Linked DNA regions of Homo sapiens: all the other regions are linked to region 1. Evidence: fine-mapped expression QTL. A gene starts in region 1. Each other region holds a variant in brackets. All regions are shown on one strand. Distances are between the middles of the regions.

The links. PIP is the estimated chance that this variant, and not a neighbour inherited with it, causes the effect.
Region 2: its variant is fine-mapped to the expression of GRINA in whole blood (TOPMed, PIP 0.98).
Region 3: its variant is fine-mapped to the expression of GRINA in whole blood (TOPMed, PIP 0.99).
Region 4: its variant is fine-mapped to the expression of GRINA in monocytes (CEDAR, PIP 0.95).

What each region holds. Positions count from the first base shown.
Region 1 is chr8:143,986,073-143,994,072 of GRCh38, forward strand. It overlaps GRINA (glutamate ionotropic receptor NMDA type subunit associated protein 1), which reads left to right and starts at 3,984. Exons shown (of 7, transcript NM_001009184.2): 1 at 3,984-4,127; 2 at 5,128-5,530; 3 at 5,620-5,732; 4 at 5,806-6,006; 5 at 6,173-6,301; 6 at 6,393-6,536; 7 at 6,620-7,343. The coding sequence starts at 5,152. The coding sequence ends at 6,769. It overlaps PARP10 (poly(ADP-ribose) polymerase family member 10), which reads right to left and starts at 388. Exons shown (of 11, transcript NM_032789.5): 1 at 286-388; 2 at 1-161. The coding sequence starts at 287. RefSeq lists enhancers at 51-490, 161-1,064, 5,729-6,230 and silencers at 3,916-4,415, 4,436-4,575, 4,706-4,965, 4,889-5,183, 5,016-5,065.
Region 2 is chr8:143,966,860-143,974,859 of GRCh38, forward strand. It overlaps a transcript of PLEC not described here. Among named protein-coding and RNA genes, the nearest start is that of PARP10, 16 kb to the right of the region's middle. RefSeq lists enhancers at 1-268, 4,994-5,843, 5,844-6,691 and silencers at 6,425-6,884, 6,895-7,024. The variant G/A (reference allele first, on the strand shown) is at 3,038.
Region 3 is chr8:143,927,000-143,934,999 of GRCh38, forward strand. It overlaps PLEC (plectin), which reads right to left. Exons shown (of 32, transcript NM_201384.3): 9 at 7,811-7,930; 10 at 7,636-7,731; 11 at 7,319-7,446; 12 at 6,999-7,092; 13 at 6,198-6,352; 14 at 5,794-6,112; 15 at 5,636-5,713; 16 at 5,401-5,562; 17 at 5,131-5,235; 18 at 4,938-5,033; 19 at 4,535-4,660; 20 at 3,385-3,537; 21 at 3,145-3,299; 22 at 2,937-3,063; 7 more. Among named protein-coding and RNA genes, the nearest start is that of PLEC, 8.6 kb to the right of the region's middle. RefSeq lists enhancers at 1,221-1,350, 1,741-1,990, 5,215-6,150, 7,559-7,608 and silencers at 1,477-1,606, 6,759-7,038, 7,159-7,268. The variant C/T (reference allele first, on the strand shown) is at 3,209.
Region 4 is chr8:144,061,942-144,069,941 of GRCh38, forward strand. It overlaps a transcript of OPLAH not described here and a transcript of EXOSC4 not described here. Among named protein-coding and RNA genes, the nearest start is that of OPLAH, 5.2 kb to the left of the region's middle. The variant G/A (reference allele first, on the strand shown) is at 4,812.

The sequences.
Region 1 (8,000 bases):
TGAGGACGCCCCCACAGCCCAGTCTCTGCCAGCTCAACACAGGTCCCCCTCCAGAGCGTCGGCGGTTTTCAAAGTAGAGAGTGAGCAGCTCGTCGGGCACGGCAGGGGGCAGTCCACGGACCTCCACTGCCACCCCTGCCTCTGCCTCCGCCATTGCAACCCTGGGACGGGGCATCAGGTGGGTAGGGAAACAGCCCATTCCACCCCTCCTGCCCCTCCCCAGGCCCCTCCAAGGTGTGTCCTCAATGCTCCCCCATTATGGGTGGCCCCACATACAGCACTTACATTCCCCGTGGCCGCTAGGCAGCCTCAGGCCATGAGCTCAGCCAGGACTCCTGTGCCTGCCCCTCAGCAAGCCTAACCCTGCTGGGAGCAGGAAAACAAAAGTGAAACTGAAAGACGGAAGGAGGGAGGGAGCAGCTGGGCCCTGGGCGCTGAGGCCTGGGTACTGGGGCTCAGATGCTTCCTCTCCTGCTGCAGCCTCAACCCCCAGCTGACCAGGAGGTATTGGCCAGGCTGGACCCCTCAGGACCCTCCAGCCAACCCAGCCCAGCCCACCGGCCCTACCTGGCCCACTCCAGCCCCTGGTTGGCAGGGTAGACAGGAGTGTCCCCTGGTGGCCCTCCACTCCCCTGGCCTCCATGGCCTGAAAATGGCCAATCACCCGCCCCACTAAACCCACCAAGGGGCCTGAGTCACTGCCCCTCACTCAGGATCTCCAAGCCTCTGTGTCCATGACACCCTCTGCACACAAAGTGCTGGGTCTCCAGGCCCGCCCCCGGCCAAGGCTGGCCTTCAACGCCCCCAGCAACCTTCTCAACCCTGCTCCTGGTCCCTCACACCTGCCAGGTGCTGAGCATGGGCGGTTCCCCACCCTTGGTCTCCAAGAATGTGCATTGCAGCACAGCCTTCCTCCCGCCTCAGGTCTTGCCTGCCCATTCCTGCAGCTTTCTGTCCTGCCTGCACCTCCCCATCTCACACCATCATTGGCATCGTCACAAGTAACCTCAGAAGGTGACAAGGTAATGGCTCCACTGCATTCCTTGCTGCCGCTAATCCTCACCACAGAAAGGGAAACGGAGGTGCAGACAGGCCCATAGCAGCACCAGGCCTCAAACCTGGGCGGTGCCTTCAGAGTCCACACTCCCACTCGCCACAGATCTCCCACATCACCCAAGCTCCGTTTGCTTCCAGCCTTTCAAAGAGCTGTGGCCACTACCACTCTCCATCTCCTACTTCCCACTCACCCCTCAGCCCACCAAAACCCAGCCCCACCCCTGCTGTTCCTCCCTCCAGGGAGCTGAGGACCCTGGCCAGCCTGCACTCCTAGCCCTGCACATGCCACACCTCTGCTGCCCCGACCCTGGTCCCAGCCTCCAGCATCTCTCGCTAGGTAGCTAGGCTAACCTCTTAACTAGTCTCTGTCTGCCACTCCCATGGTGGGTCCTCAACAGAGGTGTCAGGGTGAGCCTTGTAAAATGACACCAGCAGCTGCTACAGCTCCCAGCATCAGCAACAGTAGAAACCAAAGTCCTGGGGGCCGGGCGCAGTGGCTCATGCCTGTAATCCCAGCACTTTGGGAGACTGAGGCAGGTGGATCACGAGGTCAGGAGTTTGAGATCAGCCTGGCCAACATGGTAAAACCCTGTCTCTACTAAAAATATAAAAATTAGCCGGGCATGGTGGCAGGTGCCTATAATCTCAGCTACTCAGGAGGCTGAGTCAGGAGAATAGCTTGAACCTGGGAGGTGGAGGTTGCAGTGAGCTGAGATCGTGCCACTGCACTCCAACCAAGGTGATAGAGTGAGACTCTGTCTAAAAAAAAAACAAAAACCCAAAGTCCTTTTGAGGACCTGCCCCCTGCCCAGCTGCACCTGACCAGACCTCAGTCCCTTCTCTGGCCCCATGCCCCCTGCACACCCTGATGCTCAGAGGGCTCCAGGCTCTCAGCTCTTCCTGCAGAGCTACAGGCCACTCCTGCCTCAGTAGCCTGGGACTGGCCCTTCCCTCTGCTTGGCCCTACCTTCCCCACAAACCCCCATGGCCACCCCTCTGGCATGATCTCCCTTACTCTGCCTTTTTTTTTTTTTTTTCTGAGACGGAGTTTCGCCCTTTCACCCAGGCTGGAGTGAAGTGCCGTGATCTCGGCTCACTGCAACGTCCACCCACTGGGTTCAAGGGATTCTCCTGCCTAAGCCTCCCAAGTAGCTGGGATTACAGGCACGCACCACCATGCCCAGCTAATTTTTGTATTTTTAGCAGAGACAGGGTTTCACCCTATTGGGCAGACTGGTCTCAAACTCCTGACCTCAGATGATCCACCTGCCTCAGCCTCCCAAAGTGCTGGGATTACTGGTGCCAGCCACCATACCCAGCTATTTTATTTTTATTTACTTATTTATTTATTTTTTGAGACAGAGTCACACTCTGTTACGCAGGCTGGAGTGCGGTGGCACGATCTCAGCTCACTGTAACCTCTGCCTCCCAGGTTCAAGCCATTCTCCTGCCTCAGCCCCCCCAATAGCTGGGATTACAGGTGCACACCACCACGCCCAGCTAATTTTTTTTTGTATTTTTAGTAGAGACGGGGTTTCACCGTGTTAGCCAGGATGGTCTCCATCTCCTGACCTTGTGATCCACCCGCCTCGGCCTCCCAAAGTGCTGGGATTACAGGCGTAAGCCACCGCGCCCAGCAAGCATTTTATTTTTCTTAAAGGTCTCTCAAATTTTGTGAGCTTCTGCTTCTACAAAGGTAGAAGTTACCTTCTACAAGGGTAAATCCATCCCTGCTTTTTCCACGTTTTCTCTAATGGAACTCATCACAGGTTATCCATTACGCCGACCCTGGCTGCAGAGGGCCTGCCACAGGCACCACTCACACCACAAGCAGACTGGTACAGTTTCGGGAATTTCTGTGGACTGGTTGTCCAGCTGGGGGTAACTTGAAACCAGCCCCGGTGGAGTATTCACACCACGCGCATGTGCAAAACACGCACCCCAGGCTTCCCCTCACTAGGTCCGGCTGCTAAACACTGCGCCAGCGCACCATAGGTGCAGGACTCAGAGCGGCCTGGGAGAGGCCGGCCCTCCAAGGGCGGGAGGGCAGGTGGGGTCTGGGCCCCGGGTGGGAAGGCTGGCAGCAGGATGTACCCTGCCTGTGTCAGTCACTGCTCCCCCAAGAGGACTTGGGAGCTAAGCAGGGAGGTGGCCTGGCCTCCAGTCCTGCTGCATCCCCAAGCCTCAGCCCCTCGCAGCTTGTGAGGACGTTAGGCAGACAAGCGAGCGTTCAGGGTCTCTAGTGTGAAAACAAGACATCGTATTTGTTAGTACAAAGGGTGACTGTGGTCAAGAATAATTGTACATTTTAAAACAACTCCAAGAGTATAACTGGATTGTTTGTAACACGAAGGACAAAATGCCTGAGCTGATGGATACCCCATTTACCTTGATGTGATTATTATCCATGGCATGCCTGTATCAAAACATCCCATGTAGCCCGTAAATATACACCTACTATGTATCCACAAGAATTAAAAAAATAAAAAAGGGTCTCTAGTAGCAGGCCTGGCAGAGTTTGGGCTGACAGAGCAAATGGGGCAATTAAACCACGAGGCCTCGATTTGGGAACTAAAGGATTAGGCTTCTTGATTTGGGAGAGATCTGGATGAAAAGAAGTGAACGTCGGGTTTTAAGGCCGAGAACGGACGGTCAGTCCCGGGCAGCTTCAGCAAATCCCGCATTTAGGAATAAATTTCTTAACTACCGAACGGCCAGTCAAATTGGCCAGACCAGACTTCTGCCTCCAGGGGTCTTCAGCGCCCACCGCCCGACCCCACCCCTCGGCAGACAGTGAGAGGCGGGCCTCTGGCCGGAGCGAAGAGGAACACGCAAGGCGGCGCAGCGGGAGGGGTCCGCGGAAGCCCCGCCCACCTGCCCCTCCCACCCCGAAGCTCGCCCGGCCCCGCCCCCTGCCCCGCCCCGTCACAAGGCCCCGCTGCGTCTTCCGAGCCGCAGGCGCAGGCCCAGCTGAGCGGCCGCCGAGCGGGTGCGGGTGCGGGCGCATCGGCCATCACCGCGCGGCCGCGCAGCGGACACCGTGCGTACCGGCCTGCGGCGCCCGGCCACCGGTGAGTCCCCGGCCCGAGCCCAGGAGCGCCTCTGACCCGCTGCGCCGCGCGGCCTGCCGCCCCCGCCCCCGCCCCCACGCGGATCTTGCGCATCCGAGCGTGGCCGCCTCGGGTCAGTAAGTTGGTCCGGCCGGGGCGCGCGGCAGCTCGCGGCCAGAGGTGGCGGCGGTGGTGGGGGCGGGGAGCCGCGGCGGCCTGGAGCCGGAGGGAGGGGGCGGCGCGCTGCGGCGACTGCTGGACCCGTGACCCTGTGCGCCCCCGGCCCGCGGAGGGCCCATCCGCTCTCGGTGCCAGTGCCACGGCCGCAGCCCCTACCCGCCTCGCCCCACGCCCGCTTTGTTCCCCGCACGCCCCGTGGTCGCTTCCATCCCCCACACACCCCCGCACCCCGCTGTTCCCGGCGTACCCCACTGGCAGGCACCGGCAGCCGATCCAGGCCCGATCCCCCCACCCCGGAGCCAGGGGCCGTTGGGCCCTGTTGTTGGGCTCGCGGGGGTGGGGGGGCTCGGGCCTTTGTTGGTCACAGATGGCCCGGGGATTTCCTGGGATAGAAATAGCCGCCGGCTCCGGCCCCTTAAAGCTGCTTAAGGGGCGGGATGCGGAGGGGAGGGTCCGGGCACACCCCACACGTCCCCGGCCGAGACCCCAGCCTCCGCGCTGAGCTCCCACCCGGGAGACGCCGGCAGCGGCGCAGGCCTCCGGTTGCTTGTGAGAAACGACCCAAGCCCCAAATCCCGAGGCTGGCGGTCGTCCCCTCGCCCGGCCCCTCCCCCACCCTAAAGGCGGCCTAGAGCCCTGGGAAGGCCCCACGGCGCCGCCCGTCCGGTCCTCACGCGCTTCTCCGGGCCCAGGCTCCGGGGCTCCCCACAGCCCGGGGCAAAGGTCACGGTCTTCCCTTGCTTCCCCCTGGGTTCCCAGAAGCAGGTGGAGTTGCGCAGGGCTGGGTCCCGACGCTGTCGTCAAGCCAACTGTTCCACTGTTCCTTGTCTGTCTTCTCTAGGGGCGGACCGCGGAACCCGAGGCCATGTCCCATGAAAAGAGTTTTTTGGTGTCTGGGGACAACTATCCTCCCCCCAACCCTGGATATCCGGGGGGGCCCCAGCCACCCATGCCCCCCTATGCTCAGCCTCCCTACCCTGGGGCCCCTTACCCACAGCCCCCTTTCCAGCCCTCCCCCTACGGTCAGCCAGGGTACCCCCATGGCCCCAGCCCCTACCCCCAAGGGGGCTACCCACAGGGTCCCTACCCCCAAGGGGGCTACCCACAGGGCCCCTACCCACAAGAGGGCTACCCACAGGGCCCCTACCCCCAAGGGGGCTACCCCCAGGGGCCATATCCCCAGAGCCCCTTCCCCCCCAACCCCTATGGACAGCCACAGGTCTTCCCAGGACAAGACCCTGACTGTGAGTCTCAGGAAGGGAGGGGTGGGGTGGCCGGGAGGGCAGGGGGAGGTGCTTGTGAGTGGCGCTGACCCAGCCTGTCTGCTTCTCAGCACCCCAGCATGGAAACTACCAGGAGGAGGGTCCCCCATCCTACTATGACAACCAGGACTTCCCTGCCACCAACTGGGATGACAAGAGCATCCGACAGGCCTTCATCCGCAAGGTGGGTAGGGGCATCTCCAAGGCGGTGGGGGCTGTGGCTCCCAGCGGATGACTCTGAGCGGCTCCTTCCCCAGGTGTTCCTAGTGCTGACCTTGCAGCTGTCGGTGACCCTGTCCACGGTGTCTGTGTTCACTTTTGTTGCGGAGGTGAAGGGCTTTGTCCGGGAGAATGTCTGGACCTACTATGTCTCCTATGCTGTCTTCTTCATCTCTCTCATCGTCCTCAGCTGTTGTGGGGACTTCCGGCGAAAGCACCCCTGGAACCTTGTTGCACTGGTAACCCCCAAACCTGAGCCTCTGTGCCTGGGTCCGGCCATGCAGTCCCACACGCCCACTCTTCCGGGCCTGGTCACCGTGGTTCTCCTTGTGCTCATGAGGCAGGGGCCGGCAGGGGTGGCATGGGGGCACACACCCAAGGTCAGCCTGTGTCTCCCAACTGCAGTCGGTCCTGACCGCCAGCCTGTCGTACATGGTGGGGATGATCGCCAGCTTCTACAACACCGAGGCAGTCATCATGGCCGTGGGCATCACCACAGCCGTCTGCTTCACCGTCGTCATCTTCTCCATGCAGGTGAGGGGCCTCCCGTGGCTGGGCTGTGGCCGCAGGGGCTGAGCAGCTTTCCCAGGCCCAGCCCCATGGCCCGTTCCTCTCCCACCTGCAGACCCGCTACGACTTCACCTCATGCATGGGCGTGCTCCTGGTGAGCATGGTGGTGCTCTTCATCTTCGCCATTCTCTGCATCTTCATCCGGAACCGCATCCTGGAGATCGTGTACGCCTCACTGGGCGCTCTGCTCTTCACCTGCGTGAGTGAGGGGTGACCTTGGCCGGGGGCGGGATGCTGGGCAGGCAGGCTTGTCCCTCAACACCACTGTGCTGTCACCTCCAGTTCCTCGCAGTGGACACCCAGCTGCTACTGGGGAACAAGCAGCTGTCCCTGAGCCCAGAAGAGTATGTGTTTGCTGCGCTGAACCTGTACACAGACATCATCAACATCTTCCTGTACATCCTCACCATCATTGGCCGCGCCAAGGAGTAGCCGAGCTCCAGCTCGCTGTGCCCGCTCAGGTGGCACGGCTGGCCTGGACCCTGCCCCTGGCACGGCAGTGCCAGCTGTACTTCCCCTCTCTCTTGTCCCCAGGCACAGCCTAGGGAAAAGGATGCCTCTCTCCAACCCTCCTGTATGTACACTGCAGATACTTCCATTTGGACCCGCTGTGGCCACAGCATGGCCCCTTTAGTCCTCCCGCCCCCGCCAAGGGGCACCAAGGCCACGTTTCCGTGCCACCTCCTGTCTACTCATTGTTGCATGAGCCCTGTCTGCCAGCCCACCCCAGGGACTGGGGGCAGCACCAGGTCCCGGGGAGAGGGATTGAGCCAAGAGGTGAGGGTGCACGTCTTCCCTCCTGTCCCAGCTCCCCAGCCTGGCGTAGAGCACCCCTCCCCTCCCCCCCACCCCCCTGGAGTGCTGCCCTCTGGGGACATGCGGAGTGGGGGTCTTATCCCTGTGCTGAGCCCTGAGGGCAGAGAGGATGGCATGTTTCAGGGGAGGGGGAAGCCTTCCTCTCAATTTGTTGTCAGTGAAATTCCAATAAATGGGATTTGCTCTCTGCCTTCCCCTGGTCACTCTTCTCCCTGCCACTTTCAACATGAAGTTGGGAGGGGCTCCAGGCCCTCCCTGCTGATGGAGACACAGGACCAGAAATGAATAGTGGAGATTAATACAGTGCCAAGCCTCTGCCCACACACAGCTACATCATAAGGTGTGTGTTGGGTTCCCAACTGATGGACAGAGACCCTGGGGTGCCCAGAGTGAGTTAAGCCTGTGCTGGGGTACCCCAATGGTAAGTGGCCTGGCTGTGTCTACCAGGTGCTCCGTGGAGATGGCACGGTATAGCCGCCTCACTCTTCTGTCGCCTGGGCCAGCGGCACAGGTCATTGGCCTGCCCCAGGGCAGCCTGCCATGCTCCTTGGGCGCTCCTTGGGCCTCCCCAGCTCTGTGCAGTCCATCTGTGTGGGCACCCTGATATTCCACCCAGGCCTGCCTCTCTCCAGCCTCCCCATGAGAAACACAGGCTGGAGATCCCGTCCAAGAGCTGGACAGAGACTGAGGGCTCAGCCATTTGGGCCCCTTGGCCTGCCCAGGCCCGGTCCTTTGGAGCCCTCAGCCCCAGCCTGCAGTGCGTTTCCTGCCCTGTGACGCCTGCTGCTCCTGCAGGGGGTCCCTCCATTGCCTGGGACCTGGCTGGTCTGAGCCCTGCTGAGCTCTC
Region 2 (8,000 bases), 19 kb before region 1:
CATGACATCGAGCCTCCTTGAACATCTCGACCTCAGCCCCAAGCAAATTCCACAAAGATTAACGACAGAGATGTTTAAAAAAATGCAGCAGTGCTGGAAGCAACTCTCAGCAGATGTTTTTCTAAAAGAAGGCCATTTTAAGCATAGCATAAAATCCAGAAATCATAAAAGACTGGTGAGTGTTAAAAATTGATATGGCTAAAGAAACCACAGACAGAATTAGGCCAGGCGCGGTGGCTCACGCCTGTAATCCCAGCACTTTGGGAGGCCGAGGTGGGCAGATCACGAGGTCAGGAGATCGAGACTGTCCTGGCTAACACGGTGAAACCCCGTCTCTACTAAAAATACAAAAAATTAGCTGGGCATGGTGGCGGGCGCCTGTAGTCCCAGCTACTCGGGAGCCTGAGGCAGGAGAATGGCTTGAACCCGGGAGGCGGAGGTTGCAGTGAGCCGAGATCGCGCCACTGCATTCCAGCCTGGGCAACAGAGCGAGACTCCATCTCAAAAAAAAAAAAAAAAAAAAAAAAAAAGAAACAGACAGAATTAAACAAAAATAGATGCGTGGTGTGAGACCCATCCATGGTGTGCCCAGTGGGGACTCAGCAGGAACTTTCCAGGAGCTGAAAAGTTCTGTTCCGTGAGCTGGTGCTGCCCACAGGCAACTTCGAAGTTTACGCCGAATACAAGTGTCCCTCGGTATCAGCGGGAGATGGGTTCTGGACTCCCCATGGATACCAGAATCCACAGATGCTCAAGTCCCTGATGTAAAAAGGTGTAGTAGCCAGGCATGGCAGCAGCTCACACCTGTAATCCCAGTACTTTGGGAGGCCAAGGCAGGAGGATCCCTTGATTCCATTTCCATGTGAGCACAGGAGTTTAAGACCAGCCTGGCCAACAATGCTTGTGAATAGGCAGTTCACAAAAGAAAAGGTGCAAATAGTCAACAACTCTAGGAGATGTGCTCAGCTTAATTAATAATCAAAGAATTCAGGCCAGGCGCGGTGGCTCACACCTGTAACCCCAGCACTGAGGCTGAGGCAGGTGGCTTACTTGAGGTCAGGAGTTCAAGACCAGCCTGGCCAACATGGGGAAACCCTATCTCTACTAAAAATACAAAAATTAGCCAGGTGTGGTGGCGCACACATGTAATCCCAGCTACTCGGCGGACAGAGGCAGGAGAATTGCTTGAACCCAGGAGGCAGAGGTTGCAATGAGCTGAGATCATGCCACTGCACTCCAGCCTGGGTGACAGAGCGAGACAGAGCGAGACTTCGTCTCAAAAAAAAAAAAAGGAAGAAAAGAAAACATTGGTGTAAAGCTTCATGACTTGGATTAGACAATGGCTTCTTAAATATGGCACCAAAAGCACAAGCAACCAAGGAAAAAGATAGATAAACTGGAGTCATAATAATTAAAATTAAAATGTACGTGCTTCAAAGGACACCACCGGCCAGGTGAGGTGGCTCACGCTGTAATCCCAGCACTGTGGAGGCTGAGGCCAGGAGTTTGAGACCAGCCTGGCCAATATGGCGAAGCCCCATCTCTACTAAAAATACAAAAATTAGCCAGGTGTGGTGGCAGACGCCTGTAGTCCCAGCTACTCGGGAGCCTGAGGTACAAGAGTCACTTGAACCTGCTCCAGCCTGGGTGACAGAGCAAAACTCCATCTCAAAAAAAAAAAAAAAAAAGACACCAGCAAGCAAATAAAAAGGCAGACCACAGAAACAGAAAATGTTTGCAAATCATATTTCTGATAAAGGACTGGCATCTAGAATATATAAAGAACACTTACAACTCAAAAATACCAAAAGGTAAATTCTAAAATGGACAAAGGATTGAAATACACATTTCTCAAAAGATATAAAAAATGGCCAACAATCACACCAAAGTGTTCAACGTCATTAGCCATCAGGAAATGCAAATCAAACCACAATGAGATTCCACTCGACACCCACTAGGATTGGATGTCTGCAATCAAAGAGTCAGATAATAACAAGTGTTGGTGAGGATGTGAGGAAATTGGAAACCTCGCACCCGGCTGTTACTGGGCATGCAGAATGGCACGCCCGCTTTAGGAAGCAATCTGGCAGTTCTTCAAAATGGTTAAATATAGAATTACCACACAGCTGAGCAATTCCACTCCTAGGTATCTACCCAGCAGAAATAAAAAACATACGACCACACAAAAACGTGTATGCAAACGTCCATAGCAGCCTCACTCATAACAGCCAAAAGGTGGAAACAACCCACTATCCGTCAACTGATAAACGCATAAGCAAAAGTGGGCACTTCCACACCACGGAACCGACTCCAGCGGGGGGAGGGTGAGGTGCTGATGGCGCGGCGATGTGAGCAGCCCTGACAGCGTCCCGGCAAGTCGAAGAGGCCAGACCCAGGGCCAGTACAGGCCAATCCATAACCATTCCTGTCTGCCTGAGCCCCTCAGCCCCCCCATTCTCCCTGTCCCCCATCCAGGGCAGATTCCTCTGGGGCTGAGGCTACTGCAGCCTGTGGCAGGAGAGCTCTGGGCACCCTATGGGAGAGGCCTCCGTGCTGAGGGCTGTGGGCTGGTGACTTAGACAGTCGGCCCAGCTGCCAAGAGGTGTCCAGTCGCCCAGCCCCCCAAGCCTGGCCTGTGACAGCTCATAGAGGCTGGGCCGTCCTGCCACACCATGGGAGCCTGGAGAGAGACCTGGGGTGGGTGTGGCAGGGCGGGGACAGTTCTAGGAGAGAGTTGTGGCAATGCAGGTGAGTGGAGGTGAGGCGGTCAGTGAAGAAAGAAAGAGCGGCCCAGCAGCAGTCCAGCGTTGTGGGCAGGGGCCTGTCCTGGGGGTCAGGGCATGAGTGCAGGCCGGGGAGTGGGGAGTGGGGCCAGCCGGGGGCCTGGGCAGCTGGGGATAGAGACTTTAGGTTGTCATGTTAGGGATGGGAGTGGGGCTTAGGGGTGCTGTGAGGTGGTCCTGGAGAGGGCAGCAGGGGTGAGAATGAGGCCGGGGTGAGTACCGTTGGTGAGTGGGTGGCGTTGGTGTGGGGCAGG[G/A]GCCAGGGGTGGGAGGCCTGCATTGGTCTGGGGGAAAAGCGGGCCTGGAGAGGGGCTGGGTGTGTTGGGTCTCCACAGGGCGTGTGCCCAGCCTGTGGCCTGCACTCTCTTCAGGACCCCTTGCCAGCCCTGGGCCTGCCCAGTGCCACTGTGCCTGGCCCCCTCCTCATGTGTCCCCTACTCTCCCCTGTCCTGGACTCTGAGCTTGGTTATCTGTGTCCCTGGCACTGGCCCCAGGCCCTCAGCCAGCACTGCAGGGTGTTTGCACGGGTGAGTGGGTGATGGCGTAGGGCGTCATCTGCAGTGGTTGGTGCTCAGCTGGCAGAGGGCAGGCTGGAGGTTATTTGGGGCTCACTGGAGAGGAATTTTGGTCGGTGTTTACTGTCAAAAGTAAAACGCTCCAAAAAAAAAAAAAATCAAGCAGGGTGGAAGTATACAAAGAAAAACGGGGAGAGTCACACCTCTGGGTTCAGGCTCCCGGCTGGGGCGATCGCTGTGCATGAGAGAGGGCGGGAGAGAGCACACGGATTTGGCCGCCCCTTTACAGGGAGCTCAGACTGAGATTTCCTCTGGAGCCACTGGCTTTTCATGTCAGTACCAATTAGGTTGACCTCATGCTGATTATTAGTATTTTTTAATAGCTTTATTGAGAGGTAATTCACATGCCACACCATTCACCCATTCAAAGCGTCCAATTCAGTGGTTTCAGTAGATTCGGAGTTGTGTAGCTGTCAATTCCAGGATATTTTCTCACCCAGCCCCTGGCAACACCGCTCTCTTTTCAGTTATGGACTGGCCGCCTCACCTCCACTCACCTGCATTGCCACAACTCTCTCCTAGAACTGTCCCCGCCCTGCCACACCCACCCCAGGTCTCTCTCCAGGCTCCCATGGTGCGGCAGAACGGCCCAGCCTCTATGAGCTGTCACAGGCCAGGCTTGGGGCGCTGGGCGACTGGACACCTCTTGGCAGCTGGGCCGACTGTCTAAGTCACCAGCCCACAGCCCTCAGCACGGAGGCCTCTCCCACAGGGTGCCCAGAGCTCTCCCGCCACAGGCTGCAGTAGCCTCAGCCCCAGAGGAATCTGCCCTGGATGGGGGACAGGGAGAATGGGGGGGCTGAGGGGCTCAGGCAGACAGGAAGTTGGCGATGTTCCAAGCGGAGCAGTGGCCGCCTGACTGTACAGGGAAGACCGGGGATTTCCAGGGGAGAGCCAGGGAATGACGTGTCCAGGGGAGGGTCTGAGACGTTGTGGGGTGGGGGGTGAAGGTCACCGGAGTGAGGGTCAGACAGGGAGTTGTCTGTGAGAGGGCACAGTGAGGTGGAACCGAGGCAATGCCACAGAGGGGAGGAGGCCAGGAGGCCTAAGCCAGAGCACCTCCTCAGTGCAGGGATCAGCTGGGCAGGGGGCACAGGCCTGGCCTCCCTGCCCTCCTCAGAACCACCAAATGCTGAGCTGGGCCCAGGACAGGGGCCCGCAGCTGCTTACCATGGAGGGATTTGGGGCTGCCTTGCCGTCACTGGCTGGCTGGCAAGGGGTGCCATGCCCTCCCACAGTCCCTCCACCCCAGGGACAGGAAGGGCCGGGGCTCCAGCCCTCTAGCAGGTCCAAGGGGCTCACAGAGGTCAGGCCTGGAAAGGTGTAGGGCACAGGGGCCACCTCTGACCTCCTGCAGGCCCTCCTCAGCCTTGGTCCGTGGCTCCCAGACACAGGTACCAGCCCAGCCCCTCCCGTCCCCTTGTCTCAAGCCAGGAGCTAAGGAGACTTGGGGTACCTGGTGTGCTCACGGAGCCTCAGCACCTGCCTTGCTGTTTAGCCACTCTCAGGCCAGTGCCACACACATGCGGGCAGCTGCACCATCACGTGACAACTCCACTTCAGGCAAGCCCCCCGGCCCCCCTGCCCCCTCACCAGCCTCCACCACCAAGCCCAGAAGGCAGACAATGGGCCAAGACTGCGAGTGTGCCCAACACCAATCCTGGCCTCCAGAGGAGCTGCGCTTGGGAGGGAGGACCCTGACAGAGGGTCCCAGCAACCTCCAGGGATCTGTCTGGCTCACCCCTGGATGAATCAGAAGTAGTTCCCACCCCAGGAGGTAGAGGAAAGACAGCCCTGGGGCCAGGAAAGCCTCAGCACAATGCCCAGAACAGGCTGGGGCACCCCAGGCAGCCCAGCAACCTGACCAGATGAAGAACTCCAGGAGGAAACGATCCTGCACAGTTCCCGCACTTTGAACAGAGTGGTCAGCTCAGAAACAGCTCTGTCCTGGGGCTTGCCAGGAGGGCTGGAGCCCAGGTGGGCGGCTGCTTCCCTGCCCTATACCCCAGCACCCCTCCGGGTGCTCCCTCTAAGGCAGGGCCGGCCATGTAGAGCATGAGCAACAGGCTGCCCGCTCCAGGCCTCCCCAAGGGTGCAGGAGTGTCTCCCCTGGCCCGAATGAACTAGTCACACAGGCAAAGCGGCTGGGCACAGCACTGTCAAAGAGAGCCACAGCAGTACATCCACCCTGCCCCAGAGCCGTCGCTGGAGGACGCCTGAAGGAGATGAGTTCGGGGCACCATGAAACCTACCCAGCTGGGCAAGGTTGTGGTGGAGAGCGGCACCACGGGGCCCCAGCAGGACCTCTCTCCCTGAGCTGCCCTTGGGGGCAGAGCCAGCAAAACCAGCCACGTGGAGCTGGAGTCTGCTCTGATCGGCTCTGCCTGGGGGCCCCCACCGCGACCCTCCCCAGCAGCTCAGTCCCTTGCTCCTAAGCCTCTGCAGGCCGGCAGCCAATGCTGTGTCCACAACCGCCTGGAGCCGGGCGACCCAGGCTGAGCCAGGCAGCTGGGCTGCAAGAATGGCCGGTGGGACCAGGACCTGGGAGGGTCCAGGGGCTCCCCGTGGGCGTGGACTAGGGCAAGGGGGTCTGCCGAGGCATCAAGCAGGTGGGCAGGCCACTCTGATGCTCCCCTAGAGAGGAAGGAGGGGCCACCCTGACCCCTAGCCCACAGCTGTCCCCTAGTGAACAGAGAAGGGGTGTGGGGGGGGTGCCCTGCCAAGGAAGGGTGGCAGCCCAGGCCCTCGCCAGTTTAGGGAGGTGAGGAGAGGCGGCAACTATGTGACCCATTGCCAGGCGGCGGAGCTGCCCCTGTTCCATGCAGACGCGCCCCAGAGGTGGGGCAGGGGATGGCTCAGCCTTGACCCATGTGTCTGCTGGCCACAGACACCGGATCCTGGCTCAGACAGCCGACCCCGACAAGCCCTGAGCGCCCCCACCCGCCCGCGGCCCACCCCACCCACCCGAGCCGCGCGATGCCCTATTAAGGGCATGGCCTCGGGGGCTCAGCGGAGCGAGTCCTCCCCTTCCCTAGGCACTGGCAGCCGTTGGGGGCGATCCAGGCGGACGAGGCCGGCGGAGTGGCCGCGCTCGGGCCGGCGATCGGGACCGCCACCGTGGACGACAAGGTGCTCGGCGGCTGGGCTGTCAGGAGCGGCCCGACAGGCAGCGGGACGGGGGGCCGTACCTTTGTACTTCTCGCGCACCTCCTCGTAGGCCTGGATGAAGTCCTGCTCGTCGGGCAGCGGGCCGGCCATGCCGGCGGGCGCGGGGCGCGGGGTGCAGCGGAGCCTCCAGCACCCGGCGGCCACTCTGTCCCCGCGGCCGCGCGCGCCGCTTAAAGAGGCCGCCCCCGCCCCGCCCCCGCCCCGCCCCCGCACCCAGGATGCCCCACGGGCGGGGCGGGGCCGGGGCCGCCGCGGCCGGGCAGAGGGAGCCGCGTCTGGGCCCCTCCCGGCGGGCCGGTTCCGCGGGCTCCGAGTCCCGCACGCACGCCCTTTCCCGTTCTCGCCCGGGTCGCGGCCGCCGACACCGCGGTCGCCCGGGGGTCCTCGGGTGGCCCCCGCCCAGGGGCGGCCGCGACCTGTCTGTTCCCCGCCGGGCCGGCGACCTGCCTCCGAGACGCTCCCCTGCCCGCCCCCCACCTTGCTTCCTGCGTGCAGCTGAGAACTTTCCCATTGCAACATTGGAGACGACTGAGTCGGTATAAAGAACCCTTAAAACACTACACACAAGAAAAATTAAGTACACATACGAGGACTGGAATAGCCCATTCACAGAAGGAAAAAATGCTTGGTGATAATTAAAACAACTCTTTCCACCCATCAGATTGGCAAAGCCCCCGCTCTCCCCGCCTTCACCAATGTCGGCCACCCTGTCTGGGATGCCCCTGGCCGTGTTTTCTCCAAGCTTAATGCCATATGTCCTGTAACTGCAAGTCCCGCTTCCAGGAATCGGTCCTAAGGAAACCGTCAGAGGACGCAGAGCCCCGGCGCGGAAGGTGCTGGCTGGGGGCAAAGCCTTTGCAGTGAGTACCGAAGGCAACCACGGTCAGCCGGGGCCTCGGGACCCCCCACACTCCTCCACAACTGTAAAGGTGATGCTGAAGAAAGCCCAGGCGTGGGAACGACACAAGTGATTCCCTTTCAAGTGGGAAGAAAGTGACTTCTTTCTTTAAAGTCCGTGTGTGCTGTGAAAAGCCCTGAAGGTCATGCAGATGGAACCAGACCCTGGGGCTGGAGCTGGGTGCACAGCAGTGACCCTCTCCTTCCCTCTTTCCTGCTCCTACCAGCCCCGCTTCCCGTCGTCTGCAACATCCCCCCAGGGCTCAGCACCTGGCCTTGCAGCCCTCTCCTGGCCTCCCGCAGGGGCCTCCCTGCCCTCCGGCTGGAACAGGTCAGGACTCTCAAGCCAAAGCCTAGAGAGCTACTGCTCCTCCCTCTCCTAGCACAGCTCTAGGTCACCCACTTCCCTCCTGCCCTCCCCCTTCCCCAAGCATCTCGCTGGATGCTTCCCATCGTTCTCCCTGGATGGGGAGCTACTGGAAAGCAAGGCCAGATCCTGGCTCAGGAAGAGGCTGGGGCTCCAGACAACCAGGTACCCCCTCCCTATACACTGCTCCTGTACATTCCCACCTGGCCGCCA
Region 3 (8,000 bases), 59 kb before region 1:
CCGACTGGACCTTGGGCTTCTTGGCCGGGGAGGCCACCGGCTCAAGCTGCGCCTTGTACGTCACCAGCTGGAGTTCATAGTCCTGTGGCAATGCACTGCGGTCAGCCACCAGCTCTGCCCTCCGATGGCCCCTGCCCAGCCCCTAAACCCTCACATGGGCTTTCCCTGGCATGGCCCAGGCTCAGGGAAAGCCCGCCATCATCCTGGCAACGGTCCCGGACTTGGGGCCTGGTGCAGGCGGCTGGGCCTCACCTTGATGGCGTTGATGTACTGTTTCGCAAACCTCTGGCACTCCTCGACCTTCTCGCCGTGGCGCTCGATCTCCTCCAGCAGGGCCTGGGTGATGGTGTGGTCAGAGCCGTGGCCGCAGGGCACGCCCAGCCGCCCCGTCCCCACCGACCCAAGCCCACCTGCTCCTGCCGCAGCTGCTCCCGCACAGCCTGGCTGTCGGCCAGCGGCATGGCCTGGATCTGCTCCTGCCGCCGCCTGGCGTCCTGCAGCCAGGCGCCCAAGGGGTCTGCACTCTCGCGGTAGTAACGCAGCTGGCGGCCCAGTTGCTCGAGCTCGCGCTGCCGCACGTCGGTCTGGGCCAGCACAGCCTGCCAGCGCTCAAGCAACTGGGCGACCCGCTCCCGCCAGCGCTCCACCTCCACGTCCCGCTCCCCGTGCCGCTGCTGCAGTCGCTCCCCCACCTCCTGTGCCCCCCGCAGCTCATCCCGCAGGGCGTCGAACGTGGGCTGCTGTGCCTCGGCCTGGGCCCGCAGCTTCTGTTGGGGACAGGAGGGACATGTGCGGCTTCAGCTGGGCCCGCTGTACCCCCACCCCGCCATGAAGCCCAAGCCTCGAAACGATACCTTCAGAGAGGCCTTGGTGGCCTCGAGCTCCGGGAGGGTGGCCGGCACGGCCTGGGCCTCCTTGAGCTGCTCCTCGTGGGCCCTGAGCACCTCCTCGGCCCCCTGCGTGCCGCGGATCACCAGGCTGATGGTCTTGAGCCTGGCGGGAAAGCGGGGCTCAGGGCCATGACATGGGGCTCGAGCAATAGCCCAAGGGAATGGAACCCAAGCCACAGCGACCCAGGGTGCTGCCTGCCAAGCCCAGACCCAACCCTGGGGGTCAGCTGACCCTGTGGTCAGAGGCTTGCTTCAGGAGAAGAACAGCCTTGGGGAGAAGGAGGTTGGGAGCCTCTGTAACACAAGGACACTCAGGACCCAGCCTGGAGAGGGGGTGCGCCAGCCAGGAACGGCAGACCCCAAGGCCCCGAGACAGGACGAGCCCACTGGCTGGATGACAGCGGCATCCTGGTGCCCACAGGGCCTGGAAGCGTAGTTCTCAGCCCTTGCAGCCCAAGACTGGGCGAAGGGGACACCGGGGTGGAAATGGCACCCTGTGGTAGCCAGCGGCGGCCCTATCACTGTGCTGGTTCTGTGAGGAGTAGACAGCGGGTGGACCTGTGGTTTGCAACACAGGAAGAGGCGGCGGCCCTATCACTGTGCTGGTTCTGTGAGGAGTAGACAGCGGGTGGACCTGTGGTTTGCAACACAGGAAGAGGTGGCGGCCCTATCACTGTGCTGGTTCTGTGAGGAGTAGACAGCGGGTGGACCTGTGGTTTGCAACACAGGAAGAGGCGGCGGCCCTATCACTGTGCTGGTTCTGTGAGGAGTAGACAGCGGGTGGACCTGTGGTTTGCAACACAGGAAGAGACTATGACATAACACATTGGAAATAAATGCCAGAGGCCCTTAAGTCCAGGCCAGGAACAGGACAGACGAGAGGCAGGGTGCAGGATTCCTTACTGTGCCACTGAAAGTGGATCCACAGCTTCCCCACCTCACTCAGCAGCCGCTGCCCAGCTCCACTGTCTCTTCCCCACACCCGAATCTCATCACCAGGAAGTCCCCCGGCCGCCACTGTCGAAGCGTATCCAGCCCTGAACTCTTCTCACCACCTCTGCGGCCACCACCCCAGCTGGGCCTCCCGCCTCCTGGCCAGATCTCTGAACAGCCCCCAACTCGTTCCCTCCTGCACCCTCCTGCAAGGTCACAGCCCTCACCCCAGCACCCCCCAGCCGACCCCAGCCCCTCGCCTGTGGCCAGGTGCACTCACTTCTCCAGGTAGATGGCAGACAGGCTGCGGACCTGCTCCAGCTTGCCCAGCGTCAGCTCCAGCTCCGAGCGCAGCGTGGGGGCCGCAGGCGATGGCTCTGGTAGGGCCAAGACCTTCTCGGCCTCGGCAGAGAGCCGGGCGACCCCCTTGCCCAGCCCCTCCACCTCTGCCTGTGCCTTCTGCAAAGACAGGGAGTGGGAACGCACTCATCACCGAGCGCAGCACACAGCGCCCCTTGAAGGCCAAAGGAGGGAGGGTGGGAGGAGGGATGGGGAGAGGGATGGGACTGGATGGGGGGGGACGGCCCCTGCCTGCTGCTCGGCGATGCGCTGGGCACACTCCCGTGCCGGCTCTTTGTCCAGCGGCAGCCGCAGGCGGTGCACGGTGCGCGTCTCACAGGCCTCCAGCTGCAGCCGGATGTCTTTGAGCTCGGAGATGCAGCGCTGGCAGCGAGACTCTTCCTGTGCACCTGGGGAACACATGTGGGTCACTCCACCGCCCACCTCGCACCAGCCCAACCGCCCCAGCCCTGCCGTGCCCTACCCTGTTCCAGGCTCTGCAGCAGCTGCTGGTAGTGGTGGCTGCAGGAGCCGTACTCGCGCTCAGCCATCAGCCGGTCCTCGGGTCCGAAGCCGCCCGCGTCCTGGCTGTCCCGCAGGAAGGCCTGGTAGTGCAGCTCCAGGCTGTGCAGGGCTTGGCGCTGCTCCTCTGGCTTCAGGGTGCGGAACTGGGGGAAGCACGTGGGGCTGAGTGCCGGGCGAGGCGGCCGTGCCCTGCACAACGCCTCTCCCCTCCTCCCACCCAGAGAGCCCCCGGCTCGGGGGCAGGCGTACCGTGGCCAGGGACCAGGAGCGGATGAGCTGCACGTCGCGGCGAAGGCTCTGCCAGGCCAGAAGGCTCTTCATGTCCACGTGCAACTGGTGCCACAGCGTGACCAGGGCCTGGTGCTGGGCCTCCAGCCTGGCAGGTCAGGGCTACAGTCAGCGTCACCAGCGCCCCACCCGCCTTCCAGCCCCCACCTGCTGAGCCCCCGCCACCCACCTGGTGACGGCCTCCTGGGCCTCCTGGTTGGGCGGGGGCACCAGGAAGCACACGGAGGGCACGG[C/T]GGCCTCGCTGCCGGAGCTGCTGAGCACCTTCCAGTGGGACGGCTGTGCAGGGCCCACCAGCTGGCACTCGTCACCCTTGTGCACAGTCACCTGGGACGGGCAGAGTCGGTGAGGACATGGCCACACCCTGCCCTGCCTGGCCACGCCCCCCAGTGGACCCCCGGCCTGCGCTCACCTCCACCTGCTTATAGTCGCACACGGCCAGCAGGGGCAGGCGGCCCCGCATGGGGTGGGCTGGGTGGCGGGGCTTCAGCTGCACGACGGCCTTGGCCCGCTTGGCCAGGCCTGAGAGGTGGCCCTTGTACTCGTTCAGCTGTTCCTTCTCGTCCTGTGGGGGAGGGGCAGCATCCAGACGAGGGCCATGGAGACCCACAGGCCTGCCCCAGGCACCCCCAGACCCCGGGACCAGGCCTGTGGGGCCCTCCTGATGCTCCCGGGGTGGCAGCACTTGGAAGCAGGAGGTATAGCTGGGACAGGCCCCGGGGGTTGGCCCCAAGCAGACCCATGCACCCTCGCTCCTTCCCAACCCAGACAGGGCACCCTCCTCTCACCCCAGCTCACCCACCATGTCCTCCCAGCTACGCTCTGGTCCCTACAATGCCCTCGCCCCTTGCCCCTCCCCTGCGGGCTGCAGAAGGTACTGCCTCCTCCCATCCCACCCCTCTGCGGGGGCCAGGCCGCAGGACGGCACACACCTGGGAGCTGCCGGCTCTCCCCCCGGCCCAGCCCTGCCGACCTCAGAGGCCATTTCAGTCTCCAGTCCCTCTTCCCTGTCACTCCCCACTGTGCACCCGCCCTCCTGGGTGATCCCACCCCTGCTCCCAGAGCACAAAGCCCAGTTCCACTCTGCCCGCTCCAGATCTCAGGCCAAACAGCTGGTGCCCCTTCTATAGTACAAGGGCTGGCAGTGCTCCTTCTATAGCACAAGGGCTGGCGGTGCCCCTTCTACAGCACAAGGGCTGGCGGCAGCTGCTGACTTCAGGCTTCCACTCACTCTGTGGCTATGGAGATGGGGGCGGCCCGGCTTGGACCGGCTGCCTCTCGGCTCCCCACATCCTGCCTCATTCCCCCCTTGGCTGACCTCTACACCTCCCATGGTGCCTCCCAACTCCTGCTGGCCCCTCCAGTTGCCCCCTAGTCTCCAGAGTACCCATGCAGCCCAGAACATCCTGCCTCATTCCCGCTTCGGCTGACCTCTACACCTCCCATGGTGCCTCCCAACTCCTGCTGGCCCCTCCAGTTGCCCCCTAGTCTCCAGAGTACCCGTGCAGCCCAGACTCCAGGCCAGCCCCTCCTGACACGCCCCTGCACACCCCCTCCCTCACCTGGGCATCCTGCAGCAGGTCCTCCAGCCGGGTGACGGTGGCGGAGCGATCACAACTGTATTTCCTACGCAGTGCCTCCTGCAGCTTCTGCAACTGCCCCTCGGCCTCCCGCACATCTGAGAAGAACTGGGGCAGCGGGAGGGGGTCACGCCAGGCTACCTGGGACCAGAGCCCCAGCCCACAGTTGTCCCAGGGCAGGCCCAAGACGGGGGCACTGAGGAAGGAGTGGCAAAGCCCCCAGGAGGCCTGGGGAGCACCCCTGTCCAAGGCCCCGGTCAGGCTGCAGGCAGCAGCTGGCAACGTCTGCAGACAGGAGGGCTCCTGATTGGAGCTGCCGAGGGGGTCCAGGGGCTCCTGCAAGGCTGCCGCTGAGCCACAGTGCGGAGGGGGCTCCGGTTCTCACCTGAAAGTAGGCAGCGTTCTCCTTCAGGTGTGCCTCGATACAGCAGCACAGCTGTAGCATCCAGCTCCACTGCGTCTGCAGGGCCGCCTGGAAGGACTGCGGGACAGCAGGTCCCGGTCAGGCCCCGCCCCGCCCCGCCTGGGGACCCGGCACGGCCCCCCCCGCAGCCCCGCCCCTACCCAGGGAGCCCCACCTCCACCGTGGGCCGGGCCGGGTGGTCCTCCCGCAGCAGCCGGTCCCCAGCATTTTGGAGCTCCTTGATCTTCTTCTCCTTCAGCTCCAGCTCCCGCATCAGCGCCTGGCACCAGAGCAAAGGGTCTCAGGGACGGCCGGCCACACCCGGCTCTGCCACGCTCCCAGCAAACTCGACCCAGGGCCCCCACTGGTCTCTGACCATAGGGGACGGCCAGGGCACAGCTGGGGAGGGGGCTGTGGGGTTCAGGGCAGCTGGGCCACCGCTCACCGAGTAGCTCTCCTTCTTGGCGGTCATGTTGGTGTTGCGGTCGCTCCAGTCGAAGCCCACCTCCTCCTCCTCCTTCTCATTCAGCCACATTAGCTCCTTAGTGGCGGCTGCCACAAAGCTGTGCAAGCTCTCCAGGGACCTGAGGCGGGCCTTGGAGGAGTTCTGTGGGCAGGAGGGTGCGTGTCAGCAGGCCGCGGGCTACCCACCTCCCCCGGCTGGCCCTGCCCCCACTCACCAGCAGCTTGGCGTACTGCAGGTCCAGCCGACCCAGGCAGTCACGGTAGGCACCCCGGGTGGCGGGGGAGAGCTGGCCCTGCAACAGATGAGACGGTGAGGTCTGCAGTGGCTGGGCCCGGCCCACCCCCGCACTGCCCATCGCTCAGCGCCACCCACCTCGTCACTCCGTGCCCGCTCGATCTTGGCCCGGAATTCTTCGATGGACTGGTGCAGGCCTCGGTGGCTGCCCAGCTGCGCCTCCACGCTGGGCAGGTCCACACCCCACTCAGCGCCATCCACACGGTGCTGGTTCTCCTCCACCCAGGCCAGCAGGTCCTGCAGGTAGCGCAGAGTGGAGTCCTCCAGCTCGGGGCGCCTCTGCACACTCTGCAGAGTCACCTGGGCCACCTGGGTTGCAGGGGCCGCCACGCCTGCCTTCAGCCGTAGGTTGTACTCGGTGCGGATGGCTACCAGGCGCTCGTGCAGACGGTACACCCTGGGGCAGCAGAGGACTCAGGTAGGTGTTGGCGGGCCTGGGGCCGTGTGTACCTGGGCTTCAGGGAGGGCAGGGCGGGGCCCACCTGCGGTACATCTGCTCGCCCTGCGGGTGCCGTCCATCCTTGAGGGTCTGCACGTCGTTGAAGAGCAGCCGGATCATGCTATCCGCCTTGTCCAAGTCCCGTTCCACCTCCCCCGCCCGCTGTGGCACTTTGCCTGCAGCCAGCAGCCGGACATCCTGCAAGGTCGTTGCCATGACTCGGAGCACAGCTGATCCCCCTCTGACCTCACAGGGGCCCCGGCCAAGACGGCCACCCTCAGCCGCTTCCTCAGCCTCAGTGGGCCACTGCCTCCATCCCTGTCCTTCCCCTTCCCTCCCTGCCCACCTCACACATCTTCCTACTGGCCTTCTGGGGGATTGGGACCAAGTCCAGAGTACTTAGCCCAGTCCAAGAACCGAGACCCCCATGACCATGTCTGTGGGGTCCTGGGCCTCATCCTCCATCACCCACCCTGGGTAACTCCTCCTGTAATGCCACGTGGGCCCTGTCCTCCTGGGCAATCAGCAGTGGGTTGGGCCCTCCCCCAACCCCTCCCCTAACAGTAAGCCGCTGTCGGGGAGGGGGCCTGGCGGGGGCAAGGCAGCCCAGCGTGGGTTCTGCCCCGTGGCCAGAAACCAACTCTGCCCAAAGCAGGCAGTGAGAGTTAGCTGCACACGAGGAGGGAGGAGCTCAGGCCTGGATTCCCCACCACATGCCCCGCCCCTGCCCCTGCCCCTGCCCCAGGAGCCCAGGGGGACAGCCCCCTCCTGGCTTTAGGGCTGCAGGGCGGGGCAGGCTCCTCCGGCCTCCCTCCCGCCCACTGCCTGCCCCACACCCCCTCACCGACTGCAGCAGGGCGTCGGCCTGGTTCAGCTGCTCCTCACACAGCCCCGCCTCCATCTGCAGCTTGGTCACGATGCGCTGAAGACACTCCAGCCTGCAGCAGCAGCACAGGGAAGGGGCCGCGTTGGCCGGGTCCGGCACAGCCCTGGCCACAGACTGCAGCTCGCCTCCCGCTCCGGTCTCCCTGGCTGTGGCCCACTGTCCTAAGGCGAGTGGGAGCTTGGGTTCCCCCGCCGGGGGCGGGGCGGGGAGGGGGGTTTCCTTCCCAGGCAGTGACACACCCTCGGGTGGTTCCCCTGCCACCACAGGGCCCCACCCACCTCTCAAACTCGCTGCGGAGCTGCTTCTCCCGCTCCAGGATGGCCACGTGCAGCTTGCCCCACTCCTTCTCCACATCCAGCGGGTGGTAGCCAGGGGGCACCTTGAGCTGGCCTGCTTGCACCGCTCCCTGTAGACAGGGGCCACACTCAGGCCCTATAGGCAGGGGGCAGGGGGTGGGGCGCTGGGCCTTCAGACCCCAGCCCACCAGACCTGGGACAGCCCTGGTCCCAAAGGCAGGGCCAGGTCGGCTCCGGAAGAACCTTTCAGGCCTGGGGCGTTCCAGGACACCACCCACCCCTCCAGCGGTCCCACTCACCTCCAGGGATTGGTAGATGCCCTTGGACCTGTTCTTGTCGGCCTCCTTGGCTGGTAGCTCCATCTCCTTAAACTTCAGGAACTGAGACCACAGGATCTGCCAGGGACGAGGCTGTCGGCAACCACGCCGGGCTCTCAGGGCAGGCCCAGGACCCCGCCCCCCACGGCAGGCCCACCTCAATCTCCTCGAAGCTGGAGGGGAACCTGCGTTCCTCAAAGGCGGCCGTGTGGTGTCGCATCCACTGAAGCAGCAGCAGCACCAGCTCCCGGTACTCCTGCCAGCGCAGCTGCAGCTCCTGCGGGCAGGCACGGGCGGCTGTCAGGGGTCGTCGGGGCGTCCAGGCCCAAGCCCCCTGCCCTCCGGGC
Region 4 (8,000 bases), 76 kb after region 1:
CCCAGGAGGCGGAGCTTGCAGTGAGATGAGATCGCACCACTGCACTCCAGCCTGGCGACAGAGTGAGACTCCGTCTCAAAAAAAAAAAAAAAAAAATGGGCAACCAGCAGCCCTCGGGGTGCTCTGTCTATGGGGTAACCATTCTTTATTCCTCTACTTTCTTAATAAACGTGCTTTCACTTTAGGCACTCGCCCTGAATTCTTTCTTTCAAGAAATCCAAGAACCCTCTCTTGGGGTCTGGATTGGGACCCCTTTCCTGTAACATTTGTGCCAAGGGCAGTGGACTCCAGCTCCCCATAGACAGGGATGGGGCCCAGGATCAGGCACTTAGGAACCCCTCCCCATGGATGGGCTGCTGCTCATGTCCAGATGACTGCCCTGTAAGTGGCACGTGCCTGCTGTGATGCCACCCCCAGACCCCATGCCCATGGACCTCCTAGTGCCTTCCCATCCTGAGGCCCAGCTGAGGCCCCAGATGATCATGCCACGCCCACATGCAGGAGCCCCACCTGCCTGCTCTGAGCAGTCCGTGGGAAGCAGCTCTGGTCAGCAACCCCACTTCAGCCGAGGACCTTCCCCACCAGCCATACAGCCTCTGCCTGGCCAGCCCACACTCCTGCGGGACTGCCCTGCCTTCTGGTTTCCACCCATCCCCAGCACAGCCTCTTGGTCCTGCCTGTCAGCCCAGGATCTATCAGGAGAGATTCCCACACCCCACCCACCCACACCCCCACCATCTGCTGCCCTGTACGCACTCAGGCTGCCCGCCAGGCCTGTGCTGTAGACCCCAAACTCTCTCACTGCCCTCCACCATCCCCAGCCACCCCCTCGCCTCTCTGTTCACTCCAGGGGCCTGTGCTATCCACTCACAGACGAAACCTCTAAGGGCCTGTCCCCACGCTCCCTAGCGGCATCCCACTGCCGTGCACCTCCAGGTGTCCACCTCCCCCACCTCCGCCTGCCTCCTGGGCTCTCCTGACCCCACTCCACTGCGCGTCTCGGGGGCAGACCAACAAAAGCCAACCCCCACCCACCCAGGCTCAGGCCTCCCTTGGCTGCCCCACCTGCCTCCTACCCCACTGGGCCTTTATCTCTGTCCCTCCATGTTGCTGGGTCCCAGCTTCCCCTTGGCAATGCCACGCAGCCCCTCCACAGCAACCAGAGGCAGCTCCAGGCCTGCGGGATGGCCCGGCCCCTACTCTCTAGTGGCGCCTCTGACTGCATGGCCAGACACGTCCCAAAACCAAGCCCCAGGCCACCTACCAGTGGCCCACTCCAGCAGCGGCTCCCCCACCCAGCGAGCTGCCCCAGCCCCATTCTCATCCCCACACGCAATCTGCCAGAAGTCCTGTTACTTTCACCTTCAGAACACAGAGCTGCTACTTCTCACACCTCCACCCCGGCCAGGCTTCCATCACGTTCCCCCAGGGATATGGCTGTCCCCACCACCAGAGAGCGCAGGGCTGGGAGGACAGAGTCTGCCGTTGCAGTGACTCTGACAGCTTCAGGCACAGACAACTTGCACCCACCTCAGGGCCTGGCACAGGCTGTTCCCTGGGCCTGGAAAGCCGCGCCCCAGCCTGGCAGCTCCCTCGCCCGCTCAGGCTCTGCTCAGAGGTCACTTTCCCAGACCTGGCACCTTCTCCCCGCCGCACATCCTGGAAGAGCCCCAGGGCCCTGGCTTTGCTCCAGAGGCACCGCAGCACCCAGCGGGTTTGCCCAACTCCACAGAGTCTTGGGGCCCCGGTACGGCTCACCTCTCTCAGCATTCTTGAATTTGATCGTTCTCCGCCTGGGTAGCCAGGGACTGGCAGCCACCTCAGCCAGGAACCCGGAGCTGCAGAAGCCCAGGCTGCTGCCGCGGTTCCTGAGCACCAGCTTCAGCTCCTGGTTCTCCTGGATGAGCTGCACCAGCCGCCGCAGCTCTTCGTTCTCCTGTGCCAGCCGCTGGATCTCCTGCCGCAGGCCCTCATAGCTGCTGAGGAGGGACATGCCTGGCAGCCAGCGGCGGCAGCTGGCGGGGGCCAGCAGGCCGGCCAGGGACAGCAGACCCTGCTATTGTGAGGTCAGCAGCTGCCCCTGCCCCCTCGCCTCAGCCGCATTCCGGGCCTTCAGGGTCAGGACCCAGCTGTTCCAACCACCCCGTGGCAGAGGTGGCCTGACCTCTGACCTCCAGCCCCCTGAGGGCCAAATGGCCAGTGGGTGCCCAGAACTGTCCCAGGTCTCTGGCTCACTCCAGGAATCCTCCTCCTAGAAGATGGAAGCTTCTTTGACCCGGCCAAGCCCAGGTGTGTCGTGGGGGAAGGGATATGGGATGCAGGCTTCCGCACCCACCCGTCTGACAGCCCACTGGCCACCAGCCACAGCCTCCAGGCCTGGCCATGCCAGGACATAGTTTTAGGCAACCAGGTGTGGTATGTCGGCAGTCACGGTTGGCACAGCTTCTGAAGGGATCAGGAAGGGTGGGTGCGTGGCTGCCCTGCAGGATGGGGCCCAGCAACAGCAGGAGCTGGACAGCAGCAACCAGGGCAGGCCAGGGCTACAGGGGCAGAGCCAGCCGAGAGCACGCTAGGACAGCATGGGAGGGGGCTGCAGGCCAAGGGATGCACCAGGCAGTGCTAGAGCCACCACAAGGGAGGCTGGGCCTGTTTCTGGGGGCACAGGGCCTTGGCATTGTCACATGGAGGTTGCAGCGAGCAGGCAGGTGCCCTGGAAGAGGCACCACATCTGGGCCATAACCTCAAGGAAGGGGATGGGCCAGGCGGCCCACCAGAGGCTGAGGACCAGGACCTAAAGACACACCTCCCCAGGGACAGGAGAGCCACCCTCACCCTCAGTGGTGACAGTGGTTTGCATTTTAGATCACATAAAGGACTTTCTTCTTCTATCCAATCTGTCTTTTTTTTTTTTTTTTTTTGAGATGGAGTCTTGCTCTGTCGCCCAGGCTGGAGTGCAGTGGCGCCATCTGGGCTCACTGCAAGCTCCGCCTCCCAGGTTCACGCCATTCTCCTGCGTCAGCCTGCCAAGTAGCTGGGACTACAAGTGCCCGCAACCACGCCTGGCTAATTTTTTTGTATTTTTTTTAGTAGAGTCGGGGTTTCACTGTGTTAGCCAGGATGGTCTCAATTTCCTGACCTCGTGATCTGCCCACCTCAGCCTCCCAAAGTGCTGGGATTACAGGCGTGAGCCACCGCGCCCAGCCTCCAATCTGTCTTTAAAGGGACACTTCTGCACAGTTACTTTGGTTTTCTGGCTTTTTCTTACATTATGATTATTATGTATTTTACATCATTTTTCTCTTTTGCTTGTTTGATGGTCTAGTTTCCACTTGCTGATTTGTAGACTGTCCTGGGATTCTCAAACTCCTTTCCCTGGCTACTCGAGTGGAGCCATCGCAGGGCCCCTCACCTGTGCGAGTGGGGGCAGTGCCCCTGAGACTAGTGCTCCAGGAGACTGGGGGCAACTGTACTGAATCCCAACAGAAATTGTGACAATTTAATTCTCGGCCGGGTGCAGGGGCTCACACCTGTAATCCCAGCACTTTGGGAGGTTGAGGCGGGCAGATCACCTGAGGTCAGGAGTTCGAGACCAACCTGGCCAACATGGTGAAACCCCATCTCTACTAAAAAAAAAAATACAAAAATTAGCTGGCCGCGATGGCAGGCACCTGTAATCTCAGCTACTCAGGAGGCTGAGGCTGGAGAATCACTTGAACCTGGGAGGCAGAGGTTGCAGTGAGCTGAGATCGTGCCACTGCACTCCAGCCTGGGCAACAGAATAAGACTCTGTCTCAACTACAATAAAATAATTCCTATAATTAGGAAGAAAATGGAGTAGAGTATTTTTATTTTTTTATTTTATTTTATTTACTTTTTTTTTTTTTTGAGATGGGGTCTCACTCTGTCACCCAGGCTGGAGTGCAGTGGTGCAATCATAGCTCATCGAAGCCTTGACCTCCCAGGCTCAAGGGATCCTCCTACCTCAGCCTCCCAAGTAGCTGGGACCACAGATGCATGCACCACCATGCCTGGCTAGTTTTTTTGTTTTTTTTTTTTGGTAGAAACAGGGTCTCGCTATGTTTTGTTTTGTTTTTTGAGATGGAATCTTGCTGTCACCCAGGCTGGAGTGCAGTGGCGTGATCTCAGCTCACTGCAAGCTCTGCCTCCCGGATTCAGGCCATTCTCCTGCCTCAGCCTCCCGAGTAGCTGGGACTACAGGTGCCCGCCACCACACCTGGCTGATTTTTTTTTGTATTTTTAGTAGAGACAGGGTTTCACCGTGTTAGCCAGGATGGTCTCTATCTCCTGACCTCGTGATCCCTCCGCCTTGGCCTCCCAAAATGCTGGGATTACAGGCGTGAGCCACTGCACCTGGCCCGGGGTCTCACTATGTTGCCCAGGCTGGCCTTAAACTCCTGGCCTCCTGCCTTGTTCTCCCAAAGTGCTGGGATTACAGGTGTGAGCCACCACACCTGGCCAAAGTAGAGTTTTTCTCTTTTTTTTTTTTTTTTTTTTTTTGAGACAGAGTCTCACTCTGTCACCCAGGCTGGAGTGCAATGGCACCATCTCGGCTCACTGCAACCTCCGACTCCTGGGTTCAAGCAATTCTCCTGCCTCAGCCTCCCAAGTAGCTGGGACTACAGGTGTGTGCCACCATGCCTGGCTAATTTTTTTGTATTTTTAGTAGAGACAGGGTTTCACCCTGTTGGCCAGGCTGTTTTCAAACTCCTGACCTCAGGTGATCCACCCACCTTGGCCTCCCAAAGTGCTGGGATTAGGGATTACAAGTATGAGCCACCAAGCCTGGCCTG[G/A]AGTAGAGTATTTCTGATAGTTGGAGAGATTTTACCCCAAAAGAATGAGGCTCGGCCAGGCGAGGTGGCTCATGCCTGTAATCCCAGCACTTTGGGAAGCCGAGGCGGGCGGATCACCTGAGGTCGGGAGTTTGAGGCCAGCCGGACCAACGTGAAGAAACCCCGTCTCTATTAAAAATACAAAATTAGCCAGGCGTGGTGGTGCATGCCTGTAATCCCAGCTACTCGGGAGGCTGAGGCAGAAGAATCGCTTGAACCTGGGAGGCAGAGGTTGTGGAGAGCCGAGATCACACCATTGCACACCAGCCTGGGCAACAAGAGTGAGACTCTGTCTCAAAAACAAAAAAACAAAAAAAAGAATGAGAGGCTCAGTCAGTCAACTTTCAACTCACACACTCCGAAAGCCAGAGGGTAAAGCGTGATAGGCAGAATTCTCAGAAGGCTTCCAGGATTTCCTGCTGTACATGCCGTGCATAATCCCCAGGACTGTGAATAAGATGGACTTTACTCCCATGATTAGGTTATGTTTTTTGACACTGCTGGGGGATAAAGGAGATGGTTTTGGGTGAGCCTAACCTAATCACGTGATCCTTCCAAAGGATGGGTCTCTTTCCAGTGGAAAGAACTCAAAGCATGAAAGAGATTCCACACAGGGGAGAGTCTCCACTGCTGGGGGAGTCTCAGAGCAAGGAATGTGGGCAGCTTCCAGGAGTTGACATATCATGGTAAAAATACTGGAAAGCAAAGACAAAGAGAAAGCTTTGAAAGTTAACAAGATAAAAAAATGATTCATCACATATAAGAGAACCCCAAATAAGATGAACACCTGACTCCTCAGAAGAAGCAGTGGAGACCAGAAGACTCAAAGTCAGAAAAACACTGTCAAGCAAGAATCCGATATTTAGGAAAACCACTTTTGAAAATGAAGGTGAAATAAAGACAGTTCAAGATGAACAAAGATAGAAAATGTGTTGGCCGGGCACAGTGGCACACGCCTGTCATCCTGGCACTTTGGGAGGCTGAGGCGGATGGATCACCTGAGGTCAGGAGTTCGAGACCAGCCTGACTAACATGGTGAAACCCCATCTCTACTAAATACATAAATTAGCCGGGCATGGTGGCAGATGCCTGTAATCCCAGCTACTTGGGAGGCTGAGGCCGGAGAATCGCTTGAACCCAAGAGGCGGAGGTTCAACCTGCCGAAACAACCTGCCAGCCTGCATTCCTTCCTGATAGAGACCACTGGCCACGGAGTGGCTCTACGGCTATGGAGGAAGCACAGGGAGGGGTTTTGTGTCCTCTGCTGCACCATTTGACGCTGGAAGCCTGAAAACCCCACCCTCAGATCACGATAATGCCACCATTTTTTGAACATGAGTCCCATGGGGAGGCATGAAGCTAAATTGTGCGTTTGTGTGCTCCCCTTTCATAAATATTCATGACTCCTCTTATAGCTCATTGAATATGTATATTTGGCCACTCCCTTCAGCATAAATTCCTGTTCCCCTTGCCCCTCCCATGAAGTGTCTGTTTTTGACTTCTGACTGGAGGCTACGCTTCCCTGCCTGTCAGAATGGCCGCCCTGCAGACTGCAACCCTTTATGAGAAATAAAGCTCTCCTTTCCAAATGTATAAACCTCGCCATTCTTCAGTTGACACCACCACCATGGCTGCCACTTTAGACGAACACGCTGCCCTGGCCCTTGGGAGGCAAGTCCAGTTCTCATGCTGTGGAATCTGACTGGCCTGTGCGGGAAGAGTGTGGGGAAGTGACGCTCTGTGTTCTCCGGGCCTCCACCTGAGACCCCACACAGGGCAGGACGCCCAGTGGGCTGTGTAGCCCTCTCACTTTGGAAATTGACCAAGGGGCATACAGCAAAGCAAGAAGCATTTATTCAAGAAGATCTACTAAGTCTTGATCAGAACAGGGGGAATCTGTGGTGCTTGAGCTCAGCCTGCTTCCCCCGGTCCCTGGCTCCATCATAAAAGCTCTACTCCAGGAGGTGCAGCTGAGGACACGGGTTCCTTCCTCCCAGCTCCTGGCTGCAAGGCAGAGGCACCACATAGGGAGGGACACGCCGAGAAGACGAGGCCTCCCGTCCCCCAACACCTGCCACAGCACAGGGGTCTCACTCCGGGAGAAGCAGGCCACCACGCCCACCCCCAGGTCCACAGATGCTGCCCCAGTGAGACGCGGTGGCAGGGCTGGCTGCTGCATGGGGCTGCCTTCCTTAGGAAGCACAGTGTGGGAAAGTCACGCCTAAGGTGCGTGGCAGGCTGTGGGAAGCTCAGTGGAGAGCAATTAGGAAAAAGCGGACAGCTGTGTGAAACTGATAGCAGCAAATGAAATGGCAGGCCAGCCTGGAGTGTAGCTGAAAACCAGGGACAGAGACAACAAAGAAAGGATCCTGCAGATACTGCATCCACCCCTGGGAGTCCAGAAGCCTCTGCACCGGTGCCAGGCTGCACCCAGGCTGAGTGGTTGGGTGTGCTGGCTGTCTATTGCTGCCCTCACAAATCACCACAGACTTGCAGGTTTAAAACAACAGAAACTTACTATCTTACAGTCCCGGAGACCAAAAGTCCAAGATGAGTCTTATGGGGCTAAAATCAAGGCTTTTACAGGGATGGTTCCTTCTGGAGGTTCCAGAGGAAAGCAGGTGCCCTGCCTCTTCCAGTTCCTGGTGTGTGCCGGGACTGCTTGGCTTGCAGCCACATCACTCTGATCTCTACCCAGGTGGTCCCACAGCCTTCTCTTCTCCTGTAGTCAAATCTCCCTCCATTTCCCTCCTAAAGGACGCTTGGAATGACATTCAGGGCCCACTGGGTCACCCGGGATCGCCTCCCCGCCTCAGCCTCCTTAACTGCATCTCATCTGCAAAGTCTTTTTTGCCAAATGAGGTACATTCATAGGCTTCAGTGATTCGGGCCTGAGTGTCTTTGGGGTTGTTATTTAGCCACCACGCTTGCTGAATGCGGAGCAGATTGGAAAGCTTTCCAACCACACACACATCCATCAGCAAAGGATGGAGCTGCTTTATCCCACCGAACCCCAGGCTGGAATCACCCCAAAAACAGCAGCATGGGGGTTCCCCCAAGGGAGTGCCCCAAACTGTCACAAGATTGAGCCTATTGGGTTTCCAAAGAAAGAAGCACTAAACGCCAGGGTGACTAGTCCAGAGCATTAAT